Linked DNA regions of Homo sapiens: all the other regions are linked to region 4. The links come from fine-mapping of genetic effects on gene expression. A gene starts in region 4. Each other region holds a variant in brackets. All regions are shown on one strand. Distances are from middle to middle.

Region 1 (8,109 bases), 81 kb before region 4:
TATCCCTCCCCCAGCCCCCCACTCCCCAACAGGCCCTGGTGTGTGATGTTCCCTGCCCTGTGTCCATGTGTTCTCATTGTTCAACTCCCACTTATGAGTGAGAACATGCAGTGTTTTGTTTTCTCTTCTTGTGTTTCTTTTGTGAGAATGATGGTTTCCAGTTTCATCCATGTCCTGGCAAAGGACATGAAATCATCCTTTTTTATGGCTGCATAGTATTCCATGGTGTATATGTGCCATGTTTTCTTTATCCAGTCTATCATTGATGGGCATTCGGGTTGGTTCCAAGACTTTATTATTATGAATAGTGCTGCAATAAACATACATGTGCATGTGTCTTTACAGTAGAATGATCTATAATCCTTTGGGTATATACCCAGTAATGGGATTGCTAGGTCAAATGGTATTTCTAGTTTTACATCCTTGAGGAGTCACCACACAGTCTTCCACAATGGTTGAACTAATTTACACTCCCACCAACAATGTAAAAGTGTTCCTATTTCTCCATATCCTCTCCAGCATCTGCTGTTTCCTGACTTTTTAATGATCACCATTCTAACTGGCGTGAGATGGTATCTCATTATGGTTTTAATTTGCATTTCTCTAATGACCAGTGATGATGAGAATTTTTTTCAGAAGTTTGTTGGCTGCGTAAATGTCTTCTTTTGAGAAGTGTCTGTTCATACCCTTCACCTACTTTTTGATGAGGTTCTCTTTTTCTTCTTGTAAATTTGTTTAAATTCTTTGTAGATTCTGGATATTAGCCCTTTGTCAGATGGACAGATTGCAAAAATTTTCTCCCATTCCATAGGTTGCCTGTTCACTCAGCTGATAGTTTCTTTTGCTGTGCAGAAGCTCTTTAATTAGATCCCATTTGTCAATTTTGGCTTTTGTTGCCATTGCTTTTGGTGTTTTAGTCATGAAATCTTTGCCCATGCCTATGTCCTGAATGATATTGCCTAGGTTTTCTTCTAGGGTTTTTATGGTTTTAGGTCTTACAGTTAAGTCTTTAATCCATCTTGAGTTAATTTTTGTATAAGGTCTAAGGAAGGAGTCATTTCAGTTTCCTGCATATGGCTAGCCAGTTTACACAACACCATTTATTAAATAGGGAATCCTTTCCCCATTGCTTGTTTTTGTCAGGTTTGTCAAAGATCTGATGGTTGTAGATGTGTGGTGTGATTTCTGAGGCCTCTGTTCTGTTCCATTGGTCTATCTATCTGTTTTGGTACCAGTACCATGCTGTTTTGGTTACTGTAGCCTTGTAGTATAGTTTGAAGTCAGGTAGCATGATGCCTCCAGCTTTGTTCTTTTGGCTTAGGATTGTCTTGGCTACGCGGGCTCTTTTTTGGTTCCATACGAAATTTAAAGTAGTTCTTTTTCCAATTCTGTGAAGAAAGTCATTGGTAGCTTGATAGGGATAGCATTGAATCTATAAATTACTTTGGGCATTATGGCCACTTTCACAATACTGATTCTTCCTATCCATGAGCATGGAATGTTTTTCCATTTGTTTGTGTCCTCTTTTATTTCCTGGAGTAGTGGTTTGTAGTTCTCCGTGAAGAGGTCCTTCACATCCCTTGTAAGTTGGATTCCTAGGTATTTTATTCTCTTTGTAGCAATTGTGAATGGGAATTCACTCATGATTTGGCTGTTTATCAGTTATTGGTGTATAGGAATGCTTGTGATTTTTGCACATTGATTTTGTATCCCGAGACTTTGCTGAAGTTGCTTCTCAGCTTAAGGAGATTTTGGGCTGAGACGATGGGGTTTCCTAAATATACAATCATGCCATCTGTAAACAGAGACAATTTGACTTCCTCCCTTCCTATCTGAACACCCTTTATTTCTTTCTCTTGCCTGATTGCCCTGGCCAGAACTTCCAATACTACGTTGAATAGGAGTAGTAAGAGAGGGCATCCTTGTCTTGCGCCAGTTGTCAAATGGAATGCTTCCAGTTTTTGCCCATTCAGTATGATATTGGCTGTGGGTTTGTCATAAATAGCTCTTATTATTTTGAGATATGTTCCATCGATACCTAGTTTACTGAGAGTTTTTAGCATGAAGGGCTGAATTTTGTCAAAGGCCTTTTCTGCATCTATTGAGATAATCATGTGGTTTTTGTCGTTGGTTCTGTTTATGTGATGGATTACGTTTATTGATTTGTGTATGTTGAACCAGCTTTGCATCCCAGTGATGAAGCATACTTGATCATGGTGGATAAGTTTTTTGATGTGCTGCTGGATTCGGTTTGCCCATATTTTATTGAGGATTTTCATATCGATGTTCATCAGAGATATTGGCCTAAAATTTTCTTTTTTTGTTGTGTCTCTGCCAGGTTTTGGTATCAGGATGATGCTGGCCTCATAAAATGAGTTAGGGAGATTTTCCTCTTTTTCTATCGATTGGAATAGTTTCAGAAGGAATGGTACCAGCTCTTCTTTGTATTTCTGATAGAATTCAGCTGTGAATCCATCTGGTTCTAGACTTTTTTTGGTTGGCAGGCTATTAGTTATTGCCTCAATTTCAGAGCCTGTTATTGGTCTATTCAGAGATTCAATTTCTTCCTGGTTTAATCTTAGGAGGGTATATTTGTCCAGGAATTTATCCATTTCTTCTAGATTTTCTAGTTTATTTGCATAGAAGTGTTTATAGTATTCTCTGATGGTAGTTTGTATTTCTGTGGGATCGGTGGTGATATCCCCTTTATCATTTTTTATTGCATTTATTTGATTCTTTGCTCTTTTCTTCTTTATTAGTCTGGCTATTGGTTTATCTATTTTGTTGATCTTTTCAAAAAAACCAGCTCCTGGATTCACTGATTTTTTGAAGGGTTTTTTGTGTCTCCATCTCCTTCAGTTCTGCTCTGATCTATTTCTCGCCTTCTTCTAGCTTTTGAATTTGTTTGCTCTTCCTTCTGTAGTTCTTTTAATTTTGATGTTAGGGTGTCGATTTTAGATCTTTCCTGCTTTCTCTTGACATTTAGTGCTATAAATTTCCCTCTACACACTGCTTTAAATGTGTCCCAGAGATTCTGGTATGTTGTGCCTTTGTTCTCATTGGTTTTAAAGAACATCTTTATTTCTGCCTTCATTTCGTTATTTACCCAGCAGTCATTCAGGAGCAGGTTGCTCAGTTTCCATGTAGTTGTGCAGTATGAGCGGGTTTCTTAATCCTGAGTTCTAATTTGATTGAACTGTGGTCTGAGAGACAGTTTGTTGTGATTTCTGTTCTTTTACATTTGCTGAGGAGTGTTTTACTTCCAATTATGTGGTCAATTTTGGAATAGGTGCAATGTGGTGCTGAGAAGAATGTATATTCTGTTGATTTGGGGTGAAGAGTTCTTTAGATGTCTATTAGGTCTGCTTGGTCCAGAGCTGAGTTCAAGTCCTGGATATCCTTGTTAACCTTCTGTCTCATTGATCTGTCTAATATTAACAGTAGGGTGTTAAAGTCTCCCACTATTATTGTTTGGGAGTCTAAGTCTCTTTGTAGGTCTCTAAGAACTTGCTTTATGAATCTGGGTGGTCCTGTAGTAGGTGCATATATATTTAGGATAGTTAGCTCTTCTTGTTGCATTGATCCCTTTACCATTATGTAATGCCCTTCTTTGGTTTTTCTGATCTTGGTTGGTTTAAAGTCTGTTTTATCAGAGATTATGATTGCAACCCCTG[CT/C]TTTTTTTTTTTTTTTTTTTTTGCTTTCCATTTGCCTGGTAGATCTTCCTACATCACTTGAGGTCAAGAGATCGAGACCATCCTGGCCAACATGGTGAAACCCTGTCTCGACTAAAAATACAAAAATTAGCTGGGTGTGGTGGCGTGGGTCTGTAGTCCTAGCTACTCGGGAGGCTGAGGAAGGAGAATCGCTTGAACCCGGGAGGCAGAGGTTGCAGTGCACCAAGATTGCGCCATTGCACTCCAGCCTGGCGGACAGAGCCAGACTTCGTCTCAAAAAAAATCATCCATCCCTGAGGTCTGCCTTAGACTCTACCTTTCCAGCACATGCATTTGTTACTTGACAACTGGCCAAATACTAAAGAAGCAGTTTTTGAAAGAAAAGGAGTTATCTTATTCTTTGAAATTAAAAGGGGATTTTGTCTTGCACCTTTGGTACCAGCATGGCCACAGCGGAGTAGAGCACCAAAGAGGCTCTTGGGGTCCCTAATTCCAGGACGTGACCCTATGATGGCACTTTTGGACCTGACCTGGAGCAGAGGGGAGCTCACTGCCCTAAAGGTTGAGTCCCAGGCCAGGCAGCATTCACAACAAGCCATCTTAAGAGATTTCGGGCCTTAAGGGAAATTGTAGGTAGTCTGGCCATACTCCTTGTGGCCTGGGATAGCAATGGCTATGGGGTGAGGCTCTTCTGCTTTTGGGAAAGTGAGGGAAGAGTGGGGAGGACTGCATCTTGTCATTTGAGTGCCAGCTCAACCATAATACAATAGAACACTAGGTAGACTTCTAAGGTTTTTGACTCCAGTCCCTGACTCCCGGACAGCACTTCTGGACTGACCAAGGGCTTGGGAGATCTTGCCATCCTGAAGGGAAGAACACAGGCCTGGCTGGCTTTGCCACTTGCTGATCATAGAGCCCTGGACCCTTAAGCAAACATAGGCAGTAGCCAGGGAGTAGTGACAGCAGGTCTTGGGAGAGACCCAGGCTGTGCTGGCTTCAGGTCTGACCCAGCACAGTCACAATGCTGGTGGCCACAGGGGTGCTTGAGTCACTCCACCCCCATCTTTAGGTGGCTTGGAATAGAGACTGTATGTTTGGTAGAAAGTAAGGGAAAAGAACAAGAGTCTCTGCCTGGTAATCCAGAGAATTCTCCCAGTTCTTGTACAAGACTATCAAGACAGTATCTCTATGAGTCTGTAAGAATCACAGCATTACTGAGTTGGGGTGCACCCTAAAGCTTAGAGCATAACACCCAGCTCCTTTCAAATATCTGAAAAGCCTTCCCAAAAAGGATGGCTACAAGTAAGCACAGATAGAGAAGACTACAATAAAAACCTAACTCTTCAATGCCCAGACAATGAAGAACATCTACTAGCATCAACATCACCAAGGAAAATAATCACTGGAAGCTACAAAACTCACTGGTAATAAGTACATAGAAAAAGAAAGAATATCATAACACTGTAACTGTGGTGTGTAAACTACTCTTATCCTACGTAGAAAGACTACAGGATAAACCAACCAAAAATAATAACTACAATAACTTTTCAAGACAGTCAATACAATAAAGATATAAATAGAAGCAACAAAAAAGTTAAAAAGCAGGGAGACAAAGTTAAGGCATAGAGTTTTTATTAATTTTTATTTTGCTTGTTGTTTATGCAAATAGTGTTGTTATCGGGTTAACATAAAGGGTAATAAGATAGTATTTTCAAGCCTCATGGTAACCTCAAACCAAAAAACATACAATGGATACACAAAAAATAAAAAGCATTAAACCAAATCATATTAAAAATCACCTTCACTAGAGGAAGACAGGAAGGAAAAAAAAAAGGAAAAAAAAAAACAAGAAAGAGAAGACCACAAAACAATCAGAAAACAATTAACAAAATGGCAGGAAATAAGTTCTTACTTATCAATAATAACATTGAATATAAATGGACTAAATTCTCCAACTTAAAAACACAGACTGGCTGAATGGATGAAAAACCCATTGATCTGTTGCCTAAAAGAAACACACTTCACCTATAAAGACACACATAAACTAAAAATAAAGGGATAGAAAAATGTACTCCATTCCAATGAAAACCAAAAAAGAACAGGAGTCACTATACTTCTATGAGACAAAACAGATCTCAAGACTAAAATGATAAGAAGAGACAAATGGGTCACTATATAATGATAAAGAGGTCAATTCAGCAAGAGGATATAACAATTTAAAATATATAGTCACCCAACCCTGGAGCACCCAGATATACCAAGGAAATAATATTAGAGCTAAAGTGAGAGATAGACCTCAATAAAATAATAGCTGGAGACTTCAGCACCCCACTTTCAGCACTGGACAGATCTTCCAGACAGAAAATCAACAAACAAACAAACAAACAAACAAACATCAGACTTAATCCACACTATAGACCAAATGGATCTAATACACATTTATAGGCCATTTCATCCAACAGCTGCAGAATACATTCTTTTCCTCAGCACATAGACCATTCTTAAGGACAGACCATATGTTAGGTCAATAAACGAGTCTTAAAACTTTCCAAAAAACTGAAATAATATGAAGCATCTTCTCTGACCACAAAGGAAAATTAGAAATCAATAACAAGAGGAATTTTAGATACTATACAAATATATGGAAATAAAACAATATGTTCCTGAATGGCCAATGGGCCAATGAAGACATTAAGAAAGAAAACTGAAAAATTTCTTGAAACAAATGATATTGGAAACACAATACAGCAAAACCTATAGGATACAGAAAAAGTAATATTCAGAGGAAAGTTTATAGTTTTAAATGCATACATCAAAAAAAAGAAAAAAACTTCAAATAAACTATCTAATGATGCATCTTAAAAAACTAAAATAGCAAGAGCAAACCAAACCCAAAATTAGAAGAGAAAAAATAAAGAGAGAAAAAAACAAATGAAATTGAAATTTTAAAAATACAAAAGATTAATGAAACAAAAAGTTGGTTTTTTCAAAAGTTAAAACAAAATTGACCAACCTTTAGCCAACCTAAAGAAAAACAAAAAGAGAAAATACAAACAAAATCAGAAATTAAAAAGGAGGCATTACAACTGATACTACAGAAATTCAGAGGATCATTAGTGGCTACAATGAGCAATTATATGCCAATAAATTGGAAAATCTAGAAGAAATGGACAAATTTCTGAATACATACAATCTAACAAGATTGAACCACGAAGAAATCCAAAATCTGAACAGACCAATAGCAAGCAATGAGATCAAAGCTGTAATTAAAAGTCTCCCAGTAAAGGAAAGCCCGGGACCCAATGGGTTCACTGCTAAATTCTACCAAACATTTAAATAAGAACAAATGCCAATCCTACTCAAACTATTCTGAAAAAGAGAGGAGGAGGGAATACTTCCAAACTCATTCTACAAGTCCAGTATTACCCTAACACCAAAACCAAACAAAGAAACATCAAAAAAAGAAAACTACAGGCCAGCATCTCTGATGAACACTGATGCAAAAATCCTCAACAAAATACTAGCAAACCAAATTCAACAATACATTAGACAGCTCATTCATCATAACCATGTGGGATTTATCCCTATGATGCAAAGATGGTTCAACTTACAAAAATCAATCAACATGATTCATCATATCAACAGAATGAAGGATAAAAATCATATGGTCATTTCTGTTCATGCTGAAAAACCATTTGATAAAATTCAACAGTTCTTCATAATAAAAAAAAAACTGAGAATAAAAGGAACATGCCTCACATAATAAAAGCCATATATGACAGACCCACTAGCTATCATAGTTAGTATCCTAGCTAGTATCATACTAAATAGGGAAACACTGAAAGCCTTTCCCTTAAGATCTAGAACACAACAAGGATGTCTACTGTCACCACTGTTATTTAACATAGTATTGGAAGTCCTAGCTAGAGCAATCAGATAACAGAAAGATATAAAGGGCATCCAAATTGCAAAGGAAGAAGTCAAATTACTCGTTTGCTGATGACATGATCCAATGTTTGGAAAAACCTACAGACTCCATGAAAAAACTATTAGAACTGATAAACAAATTCAGTAAAGTTGCAGGACACAAAATCAACATACAAAAGTCAGCAGCATTTCTGTATGCCAACAGCAAAAAACACGAAAAAAAATTAAAAAGTAATCTCATTTACAATAATAGCCACATATAAAATTACCTAGGAATTAACCAAAGAAGGGAAAGATCTCTACAATAAAAACTATAAAACAATTATTAAGAAATATGAGAACACTAAAAAATAGAAAATTACTCCATGTTCATAGATTGAAAGAATCAATATTGTTAAAATCTCCATACCACCCAAAGCAATCTACAGATTCAATGCAATCCCCATCAAAACACCAGTGACATTCTTCACAGAAATAGAAAAACTAATCCTAAAATTTATATGGAAC
Region 2 (8,109 bases), 43 kb after region 4:
TAATCTATAACCTTACCCCCAACCCCGTGCTCTCCGAAACATGTGCTGTGTCCACTCAGGGTTACATGGATTAAGGGCGGTGCAAGATATGCTTTGTTAAACAGATGCTTGAAGGCAGCATGCTCTTTAAGAGTCATCACCACTCCCTAATCTCAAGTACCCAGGGACACAAACACTGCAGAAGGCTGCAGGGACCTCTGCCTAGGAAAACTAGAGTCCTTTGTTCACGTGTTTATCTGCTGACCTTCTCTCCACTATTATCCTATGACCCTGCCACATCCCCCTCTCCGAGAAACACGCAAGAATGATCAATAAATACTAAAAAAAAAAAAAAAAAAAAAAAAAGAGTTCCAGACCAGCCTGGCCAACATGGTGAAACCCCCTCTCTACTAAAGATAGAAAAATTAGCTGGGCGTTTTGGTGCATGCCTGTAATCTCACTACTCAGGAGGCTGAAGCAGGAGAGTTGCTTGAACCCGGGAGGCAGAGGCTGCAGTGCGCTGAGATCATGCTACTGCACTCCATCTGGCCTAGGCAACAGAGTGAGATTCCATCTCAAAAAAAAAAGAAAAATAGTAGAATAAAGGTTAAAGGCAAAATGAAAAAAAAAAAAAAAAAAAAAAGAAGTGCCTTTCCCCTTCCGCCATGATTGTGAGGCCTCCCCAGCCACGTGGAACTGTAAACCCATTCAACCTCTTTCTTCTGTAAATTGCCCAGTCTTGGGTATGTCTTTATCAGCAGCATGAAGATGGACTAAAATGGTAAATTAGTACCAGTGGAGTGGGGTGTTGCTGAAAAGATACCCAAAAATGTGGAAGTGACTTTGGAACTGGGTAATAGGCAGAGGCTGGAACAGTTTGGAGGGCTCAAAAGAAGACAGGAAAATGTGGGAAAGTTTGCAACTTCATAGAGACTTGTTGAATGGCTTTGACAAAAATGCTGATAATGACATGAACAGTAAGGTCCAGGCTGAGGTGGTCTCAGATGGAGATGAGGAGCTTATTGGGAACTGGAGCAAAGGTGACTCTTGTTATGTTTTAGCAAACAGATTGGCAGCATTTTGCCCTTGCCCTAGAGATTTGTGGAACTTTGAACTTGAGAGAGATGATTTAGGGTATCTGGTGGAAGAAATTTCTAAGTAGCAAAGCATTCAAGAGGCTATTTGCATACTGTTAAAGGCGTTCAGTTTCAAAAGGGAAACAAAGCATAAAAGTTCAGAAAATTTGCAGCCTGATGATGCAATAGAAAAGAAAATCCTATTTTCTGAGGAGAAATTCAAGCTGGCTGCAGAAACTTGCATAAGTAACGAGGAGCTGAATGTTAACCACCAAGACAATGGGGAAAATGTCTCCAGGGCATGTCAGAGACCTTTGTGGCAGCCCCTCCCATCACAGGCCGGAGGCCTAGGAGGAAAAAAGTGATTCTGTGGGCTGGGCCCAGGGTCCACCTGCTGTGTGCAGCTTAGGGACTTAACGCTCTGCATCCCAGCCACTCCAGCCATGGCTGAAAGGGGCAAACAAAGAGCTTGGGCCATGGCTTCAAAGGGTGCAAGCCTCAAGCCTTAGCAGCTTCCATGTGGTGTTGAACCTACGAGTGCACGGAAGTCAAGAATTGAGGTTTGGGAGCTTCTGCCTAGATTTCAAAAGATGTATGGAAACGCCTGGATGTCTAGGCAGAAGTTTGCTGTGGGGCGGGGTCCTCATGGAACCTCTGCTAGGGCAGTGCAGAAGAGAAATGTGGGGTGGGAGCCCCCAAACAGAGTCCCTACTACTGGGGTACTGCCTAGTGGAGCTATGAGAAGAGGGCCACTGTCTTCCAGACCCCAGAATTGTAGATCCACTGCCAGCTTTGCACCATGCATCTCGAATGCTGCAGACACTCAATGCCACCCTGTGAAGACAGCCAGGAGGGAGGCTTTACCCTGCAAAGCCACAGGGGCGGAGCTGCCCAAGACCATGGGAACCCACCTCTTGCATCAGCATGACCTGGATGTGAGACATGGAGTCAAAGGAGATGATTTTGGAGCTTTCAGATTTGACCGCCCTGCTGGATTTTGGACTTGCAGGGGCCCTATAGCCCCTTCGTTTTGGCCAATTTCTCCCATTTGGAATGGCTGTATTTACCCAATGCCAGTACCGCCATTGTATCTAGGAAATAACTAACTTGCTTTTGATTTTACAGGCTCATAGGCAGAAGGAACTTGCCTTGTCTTGGATAAGACTTTGGACTGTGGACTTTTGAGTTAATGCTGAGATGAGTTAAGGCTTTGGGGGACTGTTGGGAAGGCATGATTGGTTTTGAAATGTGAAGATCAGAGATTTGGAAAGGGCCAGGAGCAGAATGATATGGTTTGGCTCTGTGACCCCACCCAAATCTCATCTTGTAGTTCCCATAATTCCCACTTGTGGGAGAGACATGGTGGGAGATGATCAAATCATGGGGGTGGGTCTTTCCTACGCTGTTCTCATGATAGTGAATGGGTCTCATGAGATCTGATGGTTTTAAAAATGGGAGTTTCTCTGCACAAGCTCTCTCTTGCTGCCACCATGTAAGAAGTGACTTTTGCCTTCTGCCATGATTGTGAGGCCTCCCCAGCCACATGGAACTGTAAGCCCATTAAACCTCTTTCTTCTGTAAATTGCCCAGTCTCAGGTATGTCTTTATCAGCAGCATGAAAACAGACTAACACACCTATAAAGTCCTAGGATCAAGATTAAACACCACACTTGACCTTCAGGTGCCCACTTGGATCTCGTCCAAGTGAATTTTCCTTCTTTCCTGTTCTAAAGCCTTTAAAATAAACTTCCACTCCTGCTCTGAAACTCACCTCTGTCTCTTCTTCTGCCTTCTGCTCCTCAGTTGAAATCTTTCTTCTGAGGAGACAAGAATTGAAGTTGCTGCAGACCCATACAAAGTCGCTGCTGCCGGTAACTCAGATACCTTCCAACAGTAACAGGACTACAAGCATGCACCACCATGCCCAGCTAATTTTTTTTAGTTCCTATAGAGACAGAATCTCATTATGTTGCCCAGGGTGGTCTCAAACTCCTGGACTCAAGTGATCCTCCTGCTTCAGCTTCCTAAAACGCTGGGATTATAGGGGTGAGCCATCATGCCTGGCCAAGCACTTTTTAAATAAAATTCTTATGATTCTAATATCAGAGCTCCTACCTATCTTAAAAACTTTATGATTTTAACATCAGAAATTCTATTTATAGGAACAATGGGGATGCAAATCTGGTGCTATGTAACTTTTGGTTATGAGGAAGTGAGTCAAAGTGCAGCTTGATTAATGCTTAATTATAATTGTATTTCTGTCCATTATTCTTGCTAACCCCGTGACAACAAC[T/C]TCATTAAGTGTGTGAGTGGTGGGAGGAACACCTTCACAAGAGGAAATGTATGTTTTACTCTCAGGCAGATAGGAGAGGGCAGAGAGCTCATGTTATGTCTGCTTTTTATTAATTGTCTTCAGCTCAAAATAATCCTTACACCAGAGAGACATTTTTGGGGATGGTATATTTTGATCTCCTATAGACTCTACAGACCACTCCTGCAGCCACTCTGATGCTGATGATGGGGCTCAGGATACACCAACCCAAAATATGACCATAGGAGACTAGAACACATCACCCTAAAATATGCCTCTTTGACATATTGATTATTCTGATCTAGTTATTCTGGGAAGCTGCAGACACAGAAGCAGCTATGAAAAGTTGTCCTTTTATCTCAATAAAGGAAATCTCCATTGATAAGGATGTCTCCCTCTCTGCACCAAGAAGACACTGATTATTAAATCACTAGATACACTTTTTGTTTTTTTGACATGAAGTCTCACTCTGTTGCCCAGGCTGGAGTGCAGTGGCATGATGTCTGCCTCCTGGGTTCAAGCAATTCTCCTGCCTCAGTCCCCTAAGTAGCTGGGACTACAGGCATGCACCACCACGTCTAGCTAATCTTTTTTTTTTTTTTTTTGTATTTTTAGTGGAGATGGGGCTTTGCCATGTTGGCCAGGCTGGTCTCAAATTCCTGAGCTCAGGTGATCAGCCCACCGCATCCTCCCAAAGTGCTGGCATTACAGACATGAGCCACCAGTCTGGCCCTAAATCACTAGAGACTCTTAAACAATCAAGGCAGAATCACCTGAAATCTGCATAACAAACCTTATCTCCGTTTAAGGTAATTTTGCTGGTCATCTCAACTTAACTGAATCTGTCTCCACATCCTTCTTTGTTGTTGTTGTTGTTGTTGTTGTTTTCAGAAAATGATAATATTCAACCCTGAAGTTTAAAATCTTTTTTTGTTAATTTTTATTTTTTAAGATTTACTCATCTCTCTGGGTTATCTCCCATGCATACAAGAGGTATACAAGTTATTAAACTTGTTTTTCTCTTGTTCAATCTGTCTTTTGTTACAGAGAGTCTCAGCTAAGAACTCATGAAGGGAAGATAGATAGTCATATTTCTTCCCCTATACCAAAATATTTAACAACTTTACACCACTCCCCTTCTGTAAACTGAGTTTTACCCAGCCATCTTAGCCCTTAGCAGCATTAGCAAAATAGGGAGAAAGATCACGTAACACAGATTGGTATCACTATAAATTCATGATCCCCAAACTGAACTAGACTATTAGCACTGCCTGATATCATGGCTGTCTCACTAGTCAACTCATACTTCTTTCTTTACCATCTTAACCATTTTTTGAGTGTGCAGTTCAGTAGTGTTAACTATATTTACATTGCTATGCAACAGATCTCCAGGACTTTTTCATCTTGCATATCTGAAACTCATTAAACAACTCCACCATTCCTGGTAACTGTCACAGGGGGTGGCAGGGACAACTATCTGGGCCGGTGGCTCTGGAGTAAAAGAATTTACCAAAAACGCTTGTAAAGAAAGGCAAATTTATTAAAGAAAGTAGGAAAAGCCAGGCACGGCTCACGCCTGTAATCCCAGCACTTTGGGAGGCTGAGGCAGGCAGATCACAAGGTCAAGAAATTGAGACCATTCTGGCAAACATGGTGAAACCCCGTCTCTACTAAAAATACAAAAATTAGCTGGGCGTGGTGGCGCATGATTGTAGCCCCAGCTACTCGGGAGGCTGAGGCAGGAGAATCGCTTGAATCCAGGAGGCGGAGGTTGCAGTGAGCTGAGATCGCACCACTGCACTCCAGCCTGGTGTCAGAGCGAGACTCCCTCTCAAAAAAAAAAAAAAAGAGAGAGAGAGAAAGAAAGTAGGAAAATACATTGCAATAAAGCAACCGGAAGGCTGCAAAAGAGGAGCCGACTGCAAAGAGACAAAGATTAGCTGGAGATTTTATAACATAGAACTTGGGCTGATTGATAATGCCAATGCACTGGCAGCATAACTTGCTTTCTTTTGTCAGCTGAGATGTTTGATAAATTGAGGCGTTTGTTGGTAAGCAGTAAGTTTTTGAGTTACGTACATTATCTGAGTAGGAGGGCCATATGTATTGGGCAATATGTCCTTGGGCATAAAGAAAAACAGACCTATAATTCATCCTCTTCCTTTTTTGTTTATATGTCCTGAACCGTGAAGACAGGCATATTTATAGCTTATTTGCTTTATCTCTTTGCTTTCCTCTGGTCCCGCCAGCCTGACTCCTTTTCCCTAATTAGGACTCCACAGTAACAACCATTCTACTTTCTGTTTCTGTACATTTGTTATATGTTATTCTTTATGACAATAACAAACCTTCACCCAATCTTTAGTATCCGCAGAGGTAGTCTGTCTACCTCTTTCACAGAGAATGCGAACTGTATCAAATTATAGCCATCATGTCTATAAATTGTCCTCCATACCCACCTTAAGTTTCTTCCTTTCTTCTTGTTACAATGAAAGTGGTATTTCTTCCTCTTATACGAAACCAATCTCTCCATCTCTCCTCTAAATAGCATCTCTCCTCTATATACCATCTCTGTTAATCTTCTCAGGAAGTCTACCCATCCCATTATCCTTTCTTTCTCTTACCCCTTTGCTGATGATTCTAACAGCATTTAAAATGTCAGGCCTCTCCCAATCTAACATAATAATAATGAAGAAAATTTTCCTGGACTCCACATCCAGGGACTGAGCACGCTGTCTTTTCTTTAGACAAATTTCATAGAAATGTTTAAACTTGCTGATTCTATTTTCTCATAATCTCCTCATTCCTTATTCACTCTCATCTGGCTAAAGCCCCCAAACCTCACAATGAAGGTCCCAGTGGCCCTTGTATTGCTAAATCTAGTAGATACTTTTCAGTCTGCATTGCATGATCTCTAGGCAATATTTGACCCTGTTACCCATCCACTTGTCTTTGAAAACACCTTTTCCTTGATTTCTATGTCATATTCTGGTTGTTTTCCTCCCATCTCTTTAGCTGCTTATTTTCAGTTTCTTTTGTCCATTCCTGTTCTCTACCCAAGCCCTAGGTAATCTCTTCCACCCATATGGTTTCACAGACTCTATGTTAATAACTCTCAAATATGTATCTTTGGTGCATTCTTCTTTCACCTAAACTCTAGACCCATACAGCCAACTGCCAAATATCCTAAAGGAGATATCATTTGGCTATTTTGAAGAGAGATGAAAAGCCGCATGTCTAACACTATACTTACCATCTCTGCCCTCACACCATATACTCCTTTTCACTGTCTGCCCAGGTGCTCAAACCAGACTATTGACTTGTTCCTCTCCTTCTCTCCCAAATTGATCACCAAATTCTGTCATGTCCAGCTCTTAAATATCTTTCAAATATTCCCCCTTTTCTTTGCCTTTACTGCCACCACTGTTGTCCAAGCCACTAACATCACTTACCTGATCTATTTAGTATTCATTCATCAGCAAATTATTATTGAGTTTCCGATACTTGCCAAGCACTGTTGTAGACATTGAAGGTAGAGCAGAGAATCAAATACAAGAGTTCTCTACTTTGTAAGTAACACCTAAATCTTTGAATCCATGCTTTGTCTTCCAACTCTTGAAAGAGACGTTGGTATAGAGAAATCGTTCTCTATTATATAATAAACAGTGCAGGCAAAATACATGGCAAATGACATTTGCACCAGTGTAGAAAAGATAACATGTGGTGGAATAAGCTCTGGGGAACTGGAGAGTGGGTGCCTTGACTACAAAACAGCCTTTATTTAGGTCTAACCATTGTTTCCAAGAAGAAATATGAGCCAAGAGAGAGCATTCAGACCTTCTAGTTTTTCAATTCTAGTGTTTATGTGACATTGTCTTATGGGTTTTTATATATTTCCTTGCTTTTAAAATTTATTTCTTTTTCTTTTCTTTTTTTGTGTATTTTTTGTAGAGAGAGGGTTTCACCACGTTGGCCAGGCTGGTCTGGAACTCTTGAGCCCAAGCAATCTGCCTGCCTTGGCCTCCCAAAATGCTGATTATAGGCATGAGCCACTGCTCCTGGCCTACAATTTATTTTTTATTTTTTTGATACCTTACATCCCATATTACAAGCTATTTTTCTATGCCAAAACATGTATTTTGAGGCCGGGCGCGGTGGCTCACGCCTGTAATCCCAGCACTGTGGGAGTCCGAGGCGGGCGGATCACGAGGTCAGGAGATCGAGACCATCCTGGCTAACACGGTGAAACCCTGTCTCTACTAAAAATACAAAAAATTAGCCGGGCGCGGTGGCGGGCGCCTGTAGTCCCAGCCACTCGGGGGCTGAGGCAGGAGAATGGCGTAAACCCGGGAGGCGGAGCTTGCAATGAGCCGAGATCGCGCCACTGCACTCTGGCCTGGGTGAAAGAGCGAGACTCCGTCTCAAAAAAAAAAAACAAAAAAACGTATTTTGAAAATCACTGTGCTTTTTGTTGGAGGTAAGATGTCTGAAACCTGGAAATATTCTTAATCTAGAATAGGTCAGATCCCAGACATATTGAATAAATTATGTTCTGCTATATTTATAGAAACACTTCCAAAGATTTTTCACATAAAGAATCTTAGTAAACTTAACAGAATGAAATTTCCTTTACTTGACAAAGATCATATAGCAAAAACCTTCATAAAATATTAATGGAAAAACTTCAGATGTATCTCTTTAAAGAACAGGAACAAGAAAAAATAACCTCTACACTGCTATTTG
Region 3 (8,109 bases), 210 kb before region 4:
AGACTGTGGCCACCCCTCCCTCTAGAGGCTCAAGCCCAGGAAGATTAGAGTCTGTCCCTAAGTCCCTGGATGGAGTTGTTGGAGTTCCTGCAAGGAGGCCCCACCCAGTGAGCAGGGACATGTCAAGGTCCGGCCTGAAGAGGCGCTCTGTCCGCAGTCTGCCACAGCTAGTGTGTTGGACTGTGGGGTATACCTCTTGGGAGCAAGCCGTCCAGCCTCCCTGGCTCCAGCAGGGGAAAGACATGGCCTGGAGCTATAGAGATGGCTGCCACCCTTCCCCCACCCTGGGAGCTTAGTGTGTTAGGCAGCTATCAGTCCCAGTGTTGGCTGTAGCCCCTCCTGCAAAGGAGTTCAAAGGGCTTAGACAGCAGGCAGCCACAGCGGTGGTGCTGGTTGCCCCTCCCGCGGGGAGCTCCGCAGGCTTAAGCAGATTCTAGCTTAGTGGCTGTTGAAAATCTGCTTGGTTCTGTGGTTGGGACCCTAGGCCCCGGAGGTATGGGCTCCCAAGTGAGATCTTCTGATCTGTGGGTTGCACAGTTCCGTGGAAAAAGCACGTTTTCCCAGGCTGGGTAGCAGGCTCACTCACTGCCTCCCTTGGCTGGGGGCTGCGGCACCACACTGCTCTTCCTTCCTCTCCGTGGGTCACGCCAGTTGCCTAGTCAGTTCTGATGACAAAACCTGGATACCTTGGCTGCCAGTGCAGGATTCACATGCTGTTATGGTTCTTTTAGATGGAGCCACAGATTGCCACTGCTTCTAGTTGGCCATCTTGGCCCCGCCCCCCACTTTTAATTTCTTTCAAGAACTTTTCCTTTGCGTTCACAACTTAGCTAACTATTTGGTGCAAGAGACCTAGCTTAAGGCCTATCTCAGTTTTTGACATACTTTCCTCACTATACTTAATCATTTCTAACTTTTGATTTAAAGTGAGAGACATGCTATTCTTCTTTTCACTTGAACACTTAGAAGCCATTGTCGGGTTATTAACTGGCCTAATCTCAATATTGCTGTAACTCAGGGAATAGGGAGGCCTGAGGAGACGGCTTGAGGCCTGAGAGACCAAGGAAAAGTCAGTCGGTGGAGTTGTTGAAACACAAACAACATTTATCAATTAAGCTTGTTGTCTTACATGGATATTGTTCATGGCACTCCACAACAATTACAATAGTTATTGTAATTGTAATAATCAAAGATCACTGATCACAGATCACATAAGAGATAAAGAAAATAATTTTTTAAAATTTCGAATATTTTGAGAATTACCAAAATGTGAGACAGAGACACAAAGTGAGCACATGCTGTTGGAAGAATGGTACTAACAGACTTGCTTGACACAGGGTTGTCATAAACCTTTGATTTGTAAAAAATGCAGTATCTGTGAAGCACAATAAAGGGCAGCACAATAAAATAAAGTATGCCCGCACTAAGTCCAAAATGGTGATTCCTATAGCAACATTGGCATCCCAGACCCCTATCCTTGGCTTCATACCCAAATAGCAAACAATTCACATTTCACACAGGTGGTTCAAATGAATACATCAAAAGTGAACTCATTCTCCCTGCCACATCTACAAAGCTGCTTCTTTGCCCTCGTTATTGGTCTTAGTTACCCAAGCCAGAAACTGGAAGGCTTCTTGGGCCATTCCTTCACCCTGTCTCGACCCATCAGTGTCCTACTAATTTTGTTCCTATTTACATCTCTCAAGTTTCCTTTGTCTATCTCATGGTCTGGTTGGTATCTTTATCCTCTTTGGCCTGGAGTACTGATGCAACACCCTACCTTGTCTCTCTGTTCCAGTTTTATCTCCTATAATCCATCCTATGCTATGTAGAAACCGTAACGACCTTTTTAAAATTCAAAACTGCCAAATCAGCTCCTGCAACTTACCTACCTACAACCCTTCAATGGTTTCCTGCGATCTACAGAGTTAAATCCAAGCTTGTTCAGTTATCCATTGTTTTAGTCTGATCTCCTGTCATTCCTAGTCTACCTCTTTGGTATATTGACCGAGGTCATTCCCTACAAACACTTGGCTCGTGCTGTCCTTTCTGCCTAGAATGTTTATCCCCAGCTCTTCTTCATTTAAGTAACTTGTACTTATCATTTACAACTCTATCTAGGCAACACATCATTCCCTTCATCTGCTTTTTCTATTAAATAATTATTGGAAGTATATTTTCTATGCCTTCAAATATAAATTTACTAAAAGTTCCACTTGTAAGAGATACATTCCAAGGTAACATCAGAAGATTCTGTTCTTCTGGTAATACTAACCCATCATATATATTTGCCACACTAATGGCTGATCCTATATTGCGGACATAATTAAGATAGGCAATGCAATTAGAAATATAAGTATGTATATGTGTGTGTATGTCTATATATTTTCCATTAAATAGCTATCCCATGTTAGCCACTGCAATTTGTAAAATTGGTAATGATTGAGAAAGGAGGCCCAATGGTGTGAAGGGAAAAGACATCAATTTTGGAAAAGAGAACTGGGTTTGGATTTAAGCTCCATCATATCTGGTTTTATGTTATAGAATAAAGAATTTAATAATTATATGTCCATATCTGTAAAATGGGGACATTACCACCTCCTTATAAGGTTGCTGTTATAACATCTAATAATTTATTGATGAGCTTGATACATGACATGGTACATGGTAGATACTGAATAAATAGTAGCTATCAACATAGTTATTAATACTGAGCAGTTAAAAATGTGGCAGGCAAAAAACACATGCAATACGTTTCATTAAAATGTGAGGTGCCATGATTAAAAGTTGCGTTCATTTTAAAACACACAAAACCCTGCACAGCTTCAAAACATTTATACCCTCGCAAAATTTGTCTTTGGTCCACCCACGTTTATCAAACCATCCTTCTCTCCCCAACGTCCCCCATTTAATAAGATCATTCCTCTCTTGGACTAAATGTTAAAAGAATATAATTCTTCTACTATAAATAAAATTTAAAAATAGAATAGGATAATATATTTTATTACCTTTACGATATACTAATCTGATTTGATTATACACAAAATAGCTCAGTGTTATTCAGTCAATAATTATTTCCTCAGTCTCTGTAAGGTATGTAATACTTAGAACCAGTACTTAAAATAATCTTCATAAAGTTTATAAATTGTACCAAGTAAAAAAATACAATGTGGTTATTGCTCATATACTCATTTAAACAAACATCTATTGCATATTTACTACCTTATGGGAATGCAAAAATGAACAAACAATGACATAATCCTTGCCTTTTGACTCATAGTCTAGAAGAGGAATTAGTCACATATACAAGCAATCATCATAAAATATAAACAGTACAGTATTAAAAATGAATAAAGAATTGTGGGAGCTCGAAGAATAATGGTAGCTAAATCTTCTAGGCTGAGGTTTGGTTCCTTGCAAGGGAAGTTACATATGAGGACACAGAGGAACTGAATAGATGGACAGGGAGATATACGGAATAACAAACAGCATGAACAATTTGCCACGTACGTCTGGACAGTTTCACTTTCTTGTCATGAATACATATGTGCTACACGAAAAGGGAAAAGTGGCAGGTAATTTGTCTTTATGCATGTTTATTTATCCTTTGCTAAGAGTAAAACAATGTCTAAAACAAGGAAAACAAGTGAGCACACTCATTATTAGAATCATACCTATGCCTCACTAAACATTTATTCAAATGAACTATGTCCTCTATCTTAATTAGAGTTATTGCTATTCACTCTGAGTTGATAACATGTAAAACTTTGGCAAAAATGTTTGACTCTCACGGATTTATATTCTTAACCTAAACCTTTGCTGAATATTATTTCCAAATATTTACATCTATAAACAAGGCTGAGGCTCTTGTCTGAGTTAATAATGTCTTCTTTTTCTTTTTGTGGACAGAATAACATGAAAATATTAATAATGTATATTATAGAGGCCAGAGCTAGGAATAAAAGACTAGGCCACACCCTAGGGCAGCTTACTCAGATAGCCCAATTCAACAAAAGAGTAATACAGGCATTTGCCACTTGCTTTTGCTTCCTTTAGGCCTTAGCTGTGTAAATGCTCCTACAATAGTCCAGGAATCCCTTCCTTTGTTGTGACACTTACCTTCATGATTAAGCTTCTATGTTCCACAGATTCACTAAAATTTGTGCCCATTTCAAATATACTTGTGACTCCATCCTCACACAAATTCATCCAGTAATGATATTCCTCACGCCCAGGAAGTCGATCCCAAAAAGTCCTGAAGGCTTCCCAGACAGCTTCCTGACACACTAGAAAATAGAGAGGTGTTTTTTTACAAAAAGCTAACATGCTCTGGGGTTCTTACAATGATCATAGACTGATTCGTACAGATTCCTTGAGACACTGAAGTGTCCTTTCTGGAGGGATGTAGGAATGATTCTCAGTCAAAGGCCTTCTGTATGTATGTCCAGTTTAAACTTTTCATTTCTGAAGAGAATTTATATTTCCCATTCCTTTCTCTTACAAAGAGAATTGATTCATCTCTTCATGAGCTGGAGTGTCTCTCCCATCTCTTAAAAAAGTCCATGTTTATACTTCACAAAAGTGGAGCTGATATTGAGTATACTGTATTTAATCCAATGTTTTCCTAATGGACACTGTGATTTTCAGTTTCCTTAATGTTTGCAGATGTTCTCCTGAAATCATAACTTCAAAAATCAGCTTCTTTGCTTTTCATGATCACTGGGGAAGGAGACACTGACGTTTATAAATGGCCTGGAGCTTTTTGGCTAAATGCAGTGACATAACTGCATTGCATCTACTTGCTCAAAAAGTCATCACATATTTCTGATAAAAAAAAAAAACAGGAGTATTCAAACTTTTCCTCAAAGCTTACAGGAAGCAGAAAGTACTACATAAAATCAAGTAGAAGATATCCACCTGAAATTATCACTCTCAAACTACTATATTTCATATCTGAGAACAGAAAATAATAAT[C/A]TTTTTTATACATAAAAATTTATGTTCACACAAAAACCTGCATACGGGTATTTAAAGTCGCTTTATTCATAATTGCCAAAACTTGGGGGTGATGAAGATGTCCTTCAATAGGTGAAAGGATGAACAAACTGTGATATATCTAAAATATTATTCAATGATAAACAGAAATGAACTTTCAAGCCATAAAAGACATGGAGAAAACTTTAATGCACATTGCTAAGTAGAGGAAGCCAATCTGAAATGACTGCATACTGGTGATTCCAATATCATTCTGGAAAAGGCAAAACTATGGAGACAGTAAAAAGATCAGTGGTTTCCAGGGGTTGAGGGAGACAGGGATGAATAGGAGGAGCATAGCAGATTTTTAGGGCAGTGAGAGTACTCCATATGATACTATAATGGAGGATACATGTCGTTATACATTTGTCAAAACCCATAGAATGTACAACACAAAAAGTGAACCCTAATGTTAACTATGAACTTCAGTTAAGAATAATGTGTCAATATTGGCACATAAATTGTAACACATATGCCACAATATTATAAAATGTTAATAACAGGGAAAAGTGGTGGGGGAGTTGAGGGAATACATGGTAACTCTCTAAACACACTGCTCAATTTTTCTGTAAACCTAAAACTGCTCTAAGAAATATAGCCTATTAATTTAAGAAAAAAAAATATATATACACACATACATACATACACATGAACTTTAAAATGATATTCAGGAGAAATATATTGCTGTATTATAATAAAAACTAATCAATTTATTTGCTAAGTTATTCCAAAGCATCAAATCTGAAAGGCTGCTAAATAGTATCTCTGTGCTTTTTGTATAGTACTGAATGTACTGCTGTTCTGTAACCATTTCAGAGGCGCAGGACACTGTAGGTAACAGATACATCAGGATGGAAGGGAAAAGGAAGAGAGTGGTAAGAGAGAAAGTTAGATTTAACAGAGATTAAAAAAACTATTTTTCATAGCAAGAAGATTGAACACACATCAGGCAGGATCCACATTGAGGTGGAGCCTCTGGACTCCCACAGTCAGAAGATCTAAGTTCCCGCTCTAGCTTTCCAGTATACTAGTTTGATACCATGGGTAACTTACCTAACTATTCAAAGCTTCAATTGACTCATCTCTCTTTTTAACAGGATAAATAATTACTGCCTTATTATCTTATCTGTGAAAGTATTTTACAAATTGCAAAGTGCTACATGAATATCATATGTTATTATCGTGTTCAATTCTAATTGTCCAATAGTTATTTGGTAGAAGAAGATAGTCTAAGCCAAAAAAATTCTTAAGCTTTAACAGATTATGAAATGTATGAGTATTGAAAGTTTCTCTATCAATTGGGTTTTAGGGCTAAACCAAACCTTTCATTACAAACTTAATTTGTCTTTTAGTGAACTACCTGTATCCTTATTATTGTTATTAAGAACTTCTGACCATACAGCATACAGCGGGCACTGACTGAGGCAGAGCTGAACTATTTGTAGATCATTGTTTTTCATTTCTTCTTCTTAAAACTTCGAAATGAAAATTAAAGTAAATTCCAAAAGACAATGCAAAGGTGAAAAGTCTGGGTCAGTAAAAACTAACAAAAAGTGAATGTCTATAATGTCTGGTAATGAAATGAAGTGATTCAGAGAAAGTATAAAACAATGTTTGAAAAAAATAACTATCTACCCATAGGGAAAGAAAAAATAAATCTCAATGCCTTCTTCATACTATACACAAAAAATGATTTGAAATATTAGGGCTAATACTATGAAGTTTCTAAAATAAAACATAGAAGAATATCTACATCACTTGAGGATAGACAAAGATTTTATAGGCAGTACACAGAAAGCAACAATTATGAAAGAAAAAAACAATAAATTAGAATTCATCAAAACTAAAAAGTGTCTGATTATCAAAAGATACTGTTAATAAAAATGAGTAGGCAAACCACATATCTGGCAGAAAATATTCCAAATACATATATCTGCCAAAGAACTGGTATTTAGGGCACTGAAATAATTCCTACAACTCCCTAACAAAAAAACAAACAACCTAATTTTTACAATAGGTAAAAGGCTGGAATATATACTTCACAAAGGAAGAGATAAAAATAGCCAATGAGTATGTGAAAAACTGTTCACCATCATTCATTTTTCAGAGAAATTCAAATTAAAGTATCCACACACAAACCAAGAATGACTGAAATTTTTACATGGACAACACCAAAATTTGGCAAAAATGCAGAGCAACCAAAAGCCTCATTTTTGGTAGGAATGTATAATAGTATAACCACTTTGAAATAAATGTTAATTGTTTCTTATATAACAAAATATACACCAATCCTATTGTATTAGTCCATTCTCATGCTGCTATGAAGAAATGCCCAAGACTGGGTACTTTATAAAGGAAAGAGATTTAACTGACTCACAGTTCCACATGGGTGGGGAGGCCTCAGGAAACTTACAATCATGGTGGAAGGGAAGCAAACACATCCTTCTTCACATGGCAACAGGAGAAAGAAATGTTGAGTGAAGTGGGGGAAAGCCCCTTAAAAAGCTATCAGATCATGTGAGAACTTGCTCATTATCATGAAAACAGCATGGGGGAACAACTCCCATAATCTAATCATCTCCCACAGGGTCCTGCCTCCAACACATAAGGATTACAATTCGGATTAAAATTCAAGATGAGATTTTGGGTGGGGATACAGGCAAACTGTATCATTCTGCCCCGGCCCCTCCCAAATCTCATGTCCTCACATTTCAAAACACAACCATGCCTTTCCAACAGTCTCCCAAAGTCTTAACTCATTCCAGCATTAACCAAAAGTCCAAGTCCAAAGTCTCATCTGAGACAAGGCAAGTCCCTTCCACCTATGAGCCTGTAAAATCAAAAGCAAGTTAGTTCCTTCCTAGATACAACGGAGGTACAGACTTTGGGTAAATACACCTGTTGCAAATGGGAGAAATTGGCCAAAATTGGCCAAAATTAAGTGAAATCTTAAAGCTCCAAAATGATCTCTTCTGACTCCATGTCTCACATCCATGTCACACTGATGTAAGAGGTGGACTCCCACAGTCTTGGGCAGCTCCACTGCTGTGGCTTTGCAGGGTACAGCCCGCCTCCCAG
Region 4 (8,109 bases):
TATCTTTAGCTTCTCAAGATCTGTCTATATCTTTATCCATCTTTTCTCCTTTCCCTATATCTCACCAAACTGTTCTTTGATGTCATCCCTCTCTCCCATTTCTTCTGGGACCTCACTCCATTATCTCCTACCTGATATATATTCAATCTTTCCCTCTCCACCCCTTTCCCACTCCCTACCAACCTGATTTAAGTCTCTCATATTCCTAAAAAAAACAAGCCTTTCTACCTAATTTCCTACTCAAGCTTGTTCTAGAAATATTTCCTTCCCATCTCATTTTCCCAGCTTACTTTTGCTGCCCCATTTCCTCACTGCCACTCATTCCTCTAGCCTGTTGAAATCTGGCTTTTGTCTACTAGTCTACTAACCACTCTTACCATCAGTAAAAGTAGCCTCCTAATTGCCAAATCCAGTACCCTCATGCTACTTTAACTCTCTGAAAGGCTAACATTTTTTTTACTCTCCTCCCTTTCTTCCCGAACCTGTCACAATCCTAATCAGCCTATCTAACTGCTTAGTAATATCTCTTCCTCCGCACTTTGAAATTAGTTGTATGTGATTTAAGACCTTCCTCACTCTATACTATTTTTTGTGGGCAATTCCATTCATTCCAATGACTTCAACTAAGATTGCTGCAAATAATGCAGCTTTATCATAACTAATCGTTAAGTTCTCATCTTGAGCTTCAATTATCATTCATTACACTTTCAATGCAAAGCAAACATCACCTGGACCTACTGAAAGATTTAAGAAAGTTATACCATCAGGGACACTAGTAGCAGTAAATGAAGTTAAAACTATAGATTTTGTAATTAGAGACCACATTTTGAATTCTGTTCCTTACTAGCTATTACTAATCTTTATCCTGCCCCTAAATCCCGGTTTTCTCATCTGTAAATGAAAAACAATTACCTTATAAGGCTTTTGAAAATATTGAAGTTTGTGAAGTTCTTAGCACAATGTCTAGTGCCTAAGTACTTAAAGAACATACGTTATCCTTAACTACAAATGAGAGTGACACAGGCCTCCAAGAATGTTGCCTGAAGCAATCAGTTGAAAACTGGTTCAAATTTACTTGACGTTTCCTATTTTGATTCAAAAATTCACTTGAAAATTGCAGTCTATGATTCTAATTTATCTGTGCTGTATTTTTGTTGTTTAACACTTTTAATGGTCATTCTCCCTTGCTCCCAGACACTTTATCATTCAACTTCAGTGAACCTGTCTCTGATGCCAGCCGTTTTTTAATGTGTATCACCATCTAATATACTGCTTTAAATGGTATAGTTATCAGTTACATGAGTTACAAATACATGTGTTTAGCTTAAACCATCTGGAATTGGGTTTCTGCTACTTGCAACTGAAAAAGTTTTGAGCGGTACACTGTGAACATTTTACAGTTCTTCCTTGTTTAGCAGAAAGTTTAGGGCAGCCTAATGTAGTCTCACAGATAAAACTTCAAATTTTGTGTTTTATTTTATCTTTCTACTGCTACCCACCTTCCTTCTACCTCTTCTTCCTGTTTTATTAATCAAACTCTTCTGCATACTTAGGAAACTTTGATGACTATAAATGTCACTTCATGGCCGGGCACGGTGGCTCACGCCTGTAATTCCAGCACTTTGGGAGGCCGAGGCAAGTGGATCACCTGAGCTCAGGAGTTTGAGACCAGCCTGGCCAACATTGTGAAACCCCATCTTTACTAAAAGTACAAAAATTAACCGGGCATGGTGACAGGCACCTGTAATCTCAGCTGCTAGGGAGGCTGAGGCAGAAGAATCGCTTGAACCTGGGAGGCAGGGGTGGTAGATTGTGCCACTGCGCTCCAGCCTGGGCAACAGAGCGAGACTCCATCTCAAAAAAAAAAAAAAAAAAAAGTCACTTCATTTGGGTTCCAGTTAGCAACAACTTACAATGAAATGGCAACTGCATGCCTACAACCACTACACGGAATCTTTCAACCAGCCAATGTTTTATTTCTGAGAATTTATTCAGGAAATTAAATATACGCTATTAAGAAAAGCAGAAGCATACTTAAAAATTAATTAGTGCACATCTTAAAACTAGAGGCATACTGGAGAACAGCTAGGTAACATTAGATTTGGGTATGGATTTTATTATACCTTACTTTTCAGAAAGGACAGCTCCAAAAGAGAGATCACGAGAAAAAGAAAACGCTCTCTAGAGATATAACTAACGTAAATATCAATGTCTTTTAAGGATTAACAGCTTTATTATCAAAATCCACTTCCCACAACTACTTACATCAAGTTACTGTGACAAATAAATAAATCTAAGTGTAATCAGGTAAAAAGGAACGTGACTTGTTGAATTACAAGGCAAATATCTTACCTTCCCTCCTCAAAAATGTATTAAACCTAGATGAAATGCATTTATTTAAAAAAGGTTGTGCATCTCAAAGGAAGATATGATCACACCTAAAGTTCTGTGTTAGGAAGCCCGCAAATGACACCAGCTAAGCATTGTGCGTTTTCCTAATGTGTCCATTTTACTTAGAGGTTTGGTGGGGGGTGGAGACTATTAAAACACTCATCAGTTGGAGGCATATACCTACATGTATGTATAAATATACATATATATCATTTATACATGTGCTTTCAAAGGAAAAAACTATTATCTCCAGAATATACACCAAGAACATCGATAACATTGGTTGCATATGAAAAGGGATTTCAGGTTTTCAACTGCTTCAAGCAGTGTCCCCAGAGATCCATAATCACTCTCCTTTGCAATTAAGGCTGAAAGCAGTTTGAGATGCACTGCCACAGGGCACTCCTAAATAAATTTGGAATTGGTTTTTTTTGTTTTTTTTTTGTTGTTGTTGTTGTTTGATACAGAGTCTCGCTCTGTTGCCCAGGCTGGAGTGCAGTGGTGCGATCTCGGCTCACTGCAAGCTCCGCCTCCCGGGTTCACGCCATTCTCCTGCCTCAGCCTCCTGAGTAGCTGGGACTACAGGCGCCCGCCACCACGCCCGGCTAATTTTTTGCATTTTTTAGTAGAGACGGGGTTTCACAATGTTAGCCAGGATGGTCTCGATCTCCTGACTTTGTGATCCGACCGCCTCGGCCTCCCAAGGTGTTGGCATTACAGGCGTGAGCCACCGCGCCCGGCCAATAAATCTGTAATTGTTAACTGTCTCTGCAGAAACCAACGGTACCATCAGAAACAGAAAAATGAAATGAAATAATTGATTCATTGGGCGTTCGTTTGTGTACTGGACTGTAAGCATATGAGTCCTCGTCCTCTCCTCCTACCATCCATAGGACTTAACACAAGGACTTGAGGACCCCCTAATGGATGAAATGTTTGATAAAAACTTCTCAACTGGGAGGAGCTCTACCTCACGTTTTTATAACTCCACTTTCTTGTTTCCAAGACGTTGTACACAAAACTGAAGATAGTCATTTAAAACAAAGTAACGTCCAAAACAAAAAATATGCTGAAAATAAAAACACAACGAAAGCACGGCTTCAAATCCTTTGTTTGACTTTCCAATCACTTTTGGAAGACGCAGGGTAGGCTGGAAAAGAAAAAGGCTATTAGGCGGGCCTGTTCAGCAGAACGAGACCCGGAGAGGCATTGTATCAAAGAAAAGGAGTCTCCGGTCGCAAGCCCCACCTTTCCTCCCCAGCAGCAGCTACCTGCTGAGGGAAAGAGGAGGGAGAGGGGAAGGGACGCAAAGTCGAGAATCAAAGGAAGAGAGGAAAGTGGGGTCAGGCGCTGAGAAGCCGAAATGAAATTGGAACATTGGTGGAATTACGAGGAAGGCGTGGCAGAGAGTGACAAGCCAACCGGGAAGATCCATGGGCCGATGAGACGCAAGGAGGGTGTTCGCGGGAGGAGGGAAAAAATAAAAGGGGTTTTGAGGTGAAGAGCGCCCGAGGCTTCGATGACAGCTCGGACCGGGTCTTCGACTCCAGGGGCGGGGGCGACCCGGGAGCCTTCCATTGTGCGCGCCCCTTCCTCTCCCCGCCCCCGCCCTCGCCCCCGCGGCTTCGGGCCGCAACCCCAGCTGCCGCCTGCGCCTCCCGTTTCCCCCGGGTAGGAGACAATATGTTCAGCCCTTCTCTGACCCTTTCTCACCGGATGAAGATGGCCGTCGCCCGAGCTTTCTCTTGTCCATCTTCTCCCGCTGCTGAAATTTCAGTTGCAGGCGCTGTCACCTCAGGACCCCTCCGGCTTGGAGAGGGAGGGGGAGGGGAAAGGAAAAAAAAAAAAAAAAAAAAAAAAAAAAAAAAGCCCGCAAAGTGCGAAGCGCGCTTGCGCAAGAGCCGTCGCCTGCCCTTCGACCGGAAATCAGCCGCCCCTCCCACCTTCGACCGGAAATCACTTCCTGGGACTTTTCACTGTGGGCTGCCTCTTCCAGCGTTTTTTTGGTGGCGTTTATTTCATGATCTGAGCCCCTCTGGGGAGGTGAACCACCTGGGTGCTCGATTTTAGCTTTGTTGACTTTGAAGATTAGATTGACAAAAATTAAAAGGGAAAAACAGGAACTCCTCCGGTTCACTGGATCTCGCGAGGTGGCCAAACAACTATGAAAACAAAACGTTAGCGTTTGCAGTATTACATCCCTCACAGCCTCTCTTACATATTTGCCCCCAACGCCTTTCCTCGAACTCAGAAACCAAAAGATTTTAAGATGGCAAAATCACCTAATAATAGCCTAGCTATTAGTTTAGCATTTGCTGTGGAAATATGTCAGCAGACGAGGAAAAATGTCTTAGGATTCCTTTTTAAAATTCGAACTTGTGATTTTTAAAGTTCCTTAAAAGAAAAGCTAGAACTTAATTTTTCAATAACTGAAATGCTGATATGACAGAAAGTGGGTGGCTATAAACTTGGAATTTGTTCAATTAACATTTACCACGATACTTAAGGGACTAATCCAGTCCTCAATGAACTCAAGGTCTGGTACTATTAGCCTGATTATCCCTAATGGTGCATATCTGAATAATTTTTAAATGCACGTGTAAGCTTTCATGACGATTTAATCACAAGTTTAACAAAATTCAGCACAGTGCTCTAAGCAGGGAAAATGTTTCTGGCATGTTCAAAGCCCGAAGGGACTCTGGAAGTAGGGTTTGATTCCCAAGCTGGCCCCTTTATACCCCTAACGCCTATCCCTCCAACCCCCATCTCCCATCCTAACGGAGTCAATAAAGGGATCGGCCCAACTCGTCCACTAGAGCAGTCCCCTTCATCGTGAGTTAAGCCTTCTTAATTATAATGTGGTCAGTCCCCAGGTAGAGGTAAGGCCCCAGGTGTTGTGGGGTGTTGGGCCTGGGGAAGTGTTCTACATGGCAGGAATGACTGCAAAGCAGAAATACTTTAAGTCTTGCTGGGATTGAAGTTTACTGTAAGGATTTCGTTTTATTTGGTTAATTTCTGTTTAACAAAAACATTGCTTTCTGAAAAATAATTGAATTTTCAGTTTCCTCACAAATTAACTTTTTTTTTTTTTTGAGACGGAGTCTCGCTCTGTCGCCCAGGCTGGAGTGCAGTGGCACAATCTCGGCTCGCTGCAAGCTTCACCTCCTGGGTTCACGCCATTCTCCTGCCTCAGCCTCCCGAGTAGCTGAGACTACAGGCGCCCGCCACCACGCCCGGCTAATTTTTTGTATTTTTTAGTAGAGATGGGGTTTCACCATGTTAGCCAGCATGGTCTCGATCTCCTGACCTCGTGATCCGCCCGCCTCAGCCTCCCAGAGTGCTGGGATTACAGGCGTGAGCCACTGCGCCTGGCCCAAATTAACTTTTTTAACTAAAGAACTTAACTGATTCTAAAGTCAAGCTGGGCCGGACACAGTGGCTCGCGTCTGTAATCCCAGCACTTTGGGAGGCCGAGGCAGAATAGATTGAGCCAAGACATTCCAGACCATCCTGGGCAACAAAGCAAGACCCCCCTCTCCACAAAAATATACAGGCCAGATGCTATGACTCACCCTTGAGCCCAGGAGTTTGATACCAGCCTGGGCAATATAGTGAGACCTCCTCTCTACAAAGAAAAAAACTAGCCACACGTGGTGGCGCATGCCTGTAGTCCCAGGTACTCAAGAGGCTAAGGCAGGAAGATCACTTAAGCCCATGGAGTTAAAAGTTGCAGTGAGCCTTGATCAGGCCACTGCATTCCAGCCTGGGCGACAGAGCCAGACTGTCTCGGAAAAAAAAAAAAAAATGACCCGGGCACGGTGGAGCACACCTATAGTCCCCGGCTACTGGGGAAGATGAGATTTAAGGATTACTTGAGTCCAGGACTTTGAGGCTGCAGTGAGCTATGATCGCTACACGGTACTGCGGCCTGGGCGACACACAGATACCCTGTCTCCAAAAAACATAAAAAATAAACTTCCCAGACGATTCTGTTGCATACTCCAATTTGGTAAAACCAACACTTAGTGACATCTGCTTTTTTCTTTTTCCTATCTCTAATATTCTTTTTTCTATGTGTCCTTGCCTCTGGTGGATTAAATACAACTTTTTTGTTCCCTAGGGAGAGGTGAACAGTGAGGAGGGACATTATGTACTTTCATCTTATTTTGAAATTTCTACAGATATAATTTCACAACCACTATTATTTTCTACAATTTACTAAATGGAATTGTAATACAGGCATTATTATTTTTCTAAAAAACTGCATAATTGCTTTCTGTGTTGGGAAAAGAAAAATAGTGCTGCTTTTGTACCAAAACAGTATTCTTTCTTTCAAACATATTTTCTAGAGGTTTTTTGTTTTGTTTTGCTTTCCTAAATATGAAAATAAATGAAAACTTACTCGTTGTAAAAAAAAAAAAGTATCATTAGATATTTTTAAATATTCTGAGTAAAAGTATTCTCCATTCTGTGCTTCTTAATGGCATGGTATATACAAAAGGACCTTGTTCCTAAATATAAAAAAGGATTATAATTACTGTATTAGATTATTACTCTGTAACCAGGGGATTTCCTAACTTCTCAGATTATAAAATTACTTCTTATAAAAGCTTACTAATCACCTGTGAAAAATGTAAATATTGTTAAATGTAACCACTTTTGATCCTAGAAAGGAAAGGGGTTCCTTAAAAATCCAAATACGCTAATTAAAGTTATTTGCATCTATGATTCTGGTGTCCCACCCACCCTCTTCTTTAAAGATAATCACACCTAACCTAGAGAAGTCAAATTCAGAGAGATCGAAAGTAGAATGGTGGTTGCTAGTGCCTAGGATGAGGAGAATGGGGAGTTATTGTTTAATGGGTATAGAGTTACAGTTTTGTAAGATGAAAAGCATTCTGTGGATGGATGTCAGTAATGGTTACACAACAATATGAATGTACGTAATGCCTCTGAACTGCACACTTAAAAATGGTTAGAATGGTAAATTTTGTTATGTATATTTTCACAATTGTTTTTTAAGAAATAACCACACCTAGAACAAGTCATTACAGCTGTGTCACCACCTAATCCAGGATACTGGAAAAGCCTAATTTCAAATTTTCTTTAATGCGTATATGCTGTTCTCCTTTTTTAAAATTTTATTCTGCGTAAAACGACTGGAGTACTTGACATAGGAAACAAAGTGCCTACCAAATGGCCTCACTAAATTTTTGGTAAATGAATGAAATAAAAAGTCAAATACTATGCATTTTTAAATCTTTGGTAAAAACTAATCTTGGAGTGGGAGGAGGGTGAGCGTTGTAAAACTACCTATCAGATACTATGCTCGCTACCTGGGTAATGAAATCATTTGTATACCAAACCCCAGTGACACAAAATTTACCCTTGTAACACATTTGCACATTCCCCCGACCCTAAAATAAAAGTCAAAAAAGGGGAAAAAAAATCTTCTCTCAGGCTCCTGGGCTGCCTCAGTTACTTTGGGCATGCCACTTTACCTTTGAAAGCCTCAACTTCTCCATTTATAAAATAAACATGTTAGCTAAGAATATCAATAAGGTCCCTTCTAGCTCTAACAATCTTATTCTTGAAGGTAAACTATTGAAGGAAACCAGAATGTCACCTCAAAATATGCCTTTTTTTTTTTTTCCCGGAGACTGAGTTTTGCTCTTATTGCCCAGGCTGGAGTGCAATAGCACGATCTCAGCTCACTGC

What was found.
Region 1: its variant is fine-mapped to the expression of SENP7 in whole blood (INTERVAL, PIP 0.99).
Region 2: its variant is fine-mapped to the expression of SENP7 in whole blood (INTERVAL, PIP 0.96).
Region 3: its variant is fine-mapped to the expression of SENP7 in cerebellum (GTEx, PIP 0.94).

Annotation. Positions count from the first base shown.
Region 1 is chr3:101,427,834-101,435,942 of GRCh38, forward strand. All of the region lies in intron 4 of SENP7 (SUMO specific peptidase 7), which reads right to left. Among named protein-coding and RNA genes, the nearest start is that of SENP7, 81 kb to the right of the region's middle. The variant CT/C (reference allele first, on the strand shown) is at 3,675.
Region 2 is chr3:101,552,164-101,560,272 of GRCh38, forward strand. No RefSeq gene overlaps it. Among named protein-coding and RNA genes, the nearest start is that of TRMT10C, 5.6 kb to the right of the region's middle. RefSeq lists an enhancer at 3,846-4,458. The variant T/C (reference allele first, on the strand shown) is at 3,349.
Region 3 is chr3:101,300,027-101,308,135 of GRCh38, forward strand. It overlaps IMPG2 (interphotoreceptor matrix proteoglycan 2), which reads right to left. Exons shown (of 19, transcript NM_016247.4): 3 at 4,120-4,286. Among named protein-coding and RNA genes, the nearest start is that of IMPG2, 16 kb to the right of the region's middle. The variant C/A (reference allele first, on the strand shown) is at 4,975.
Region 4 is chr3:101,508,987-101,517,095 of GRCh38, forward strand. SENP7 (SUMO specific peptidase 7) reads right to left here and starts at 4,226. Exons shown (of 24, transcript NM_020654.5): 1 at 4,105-4,226. The coding sequence starts at 4,144.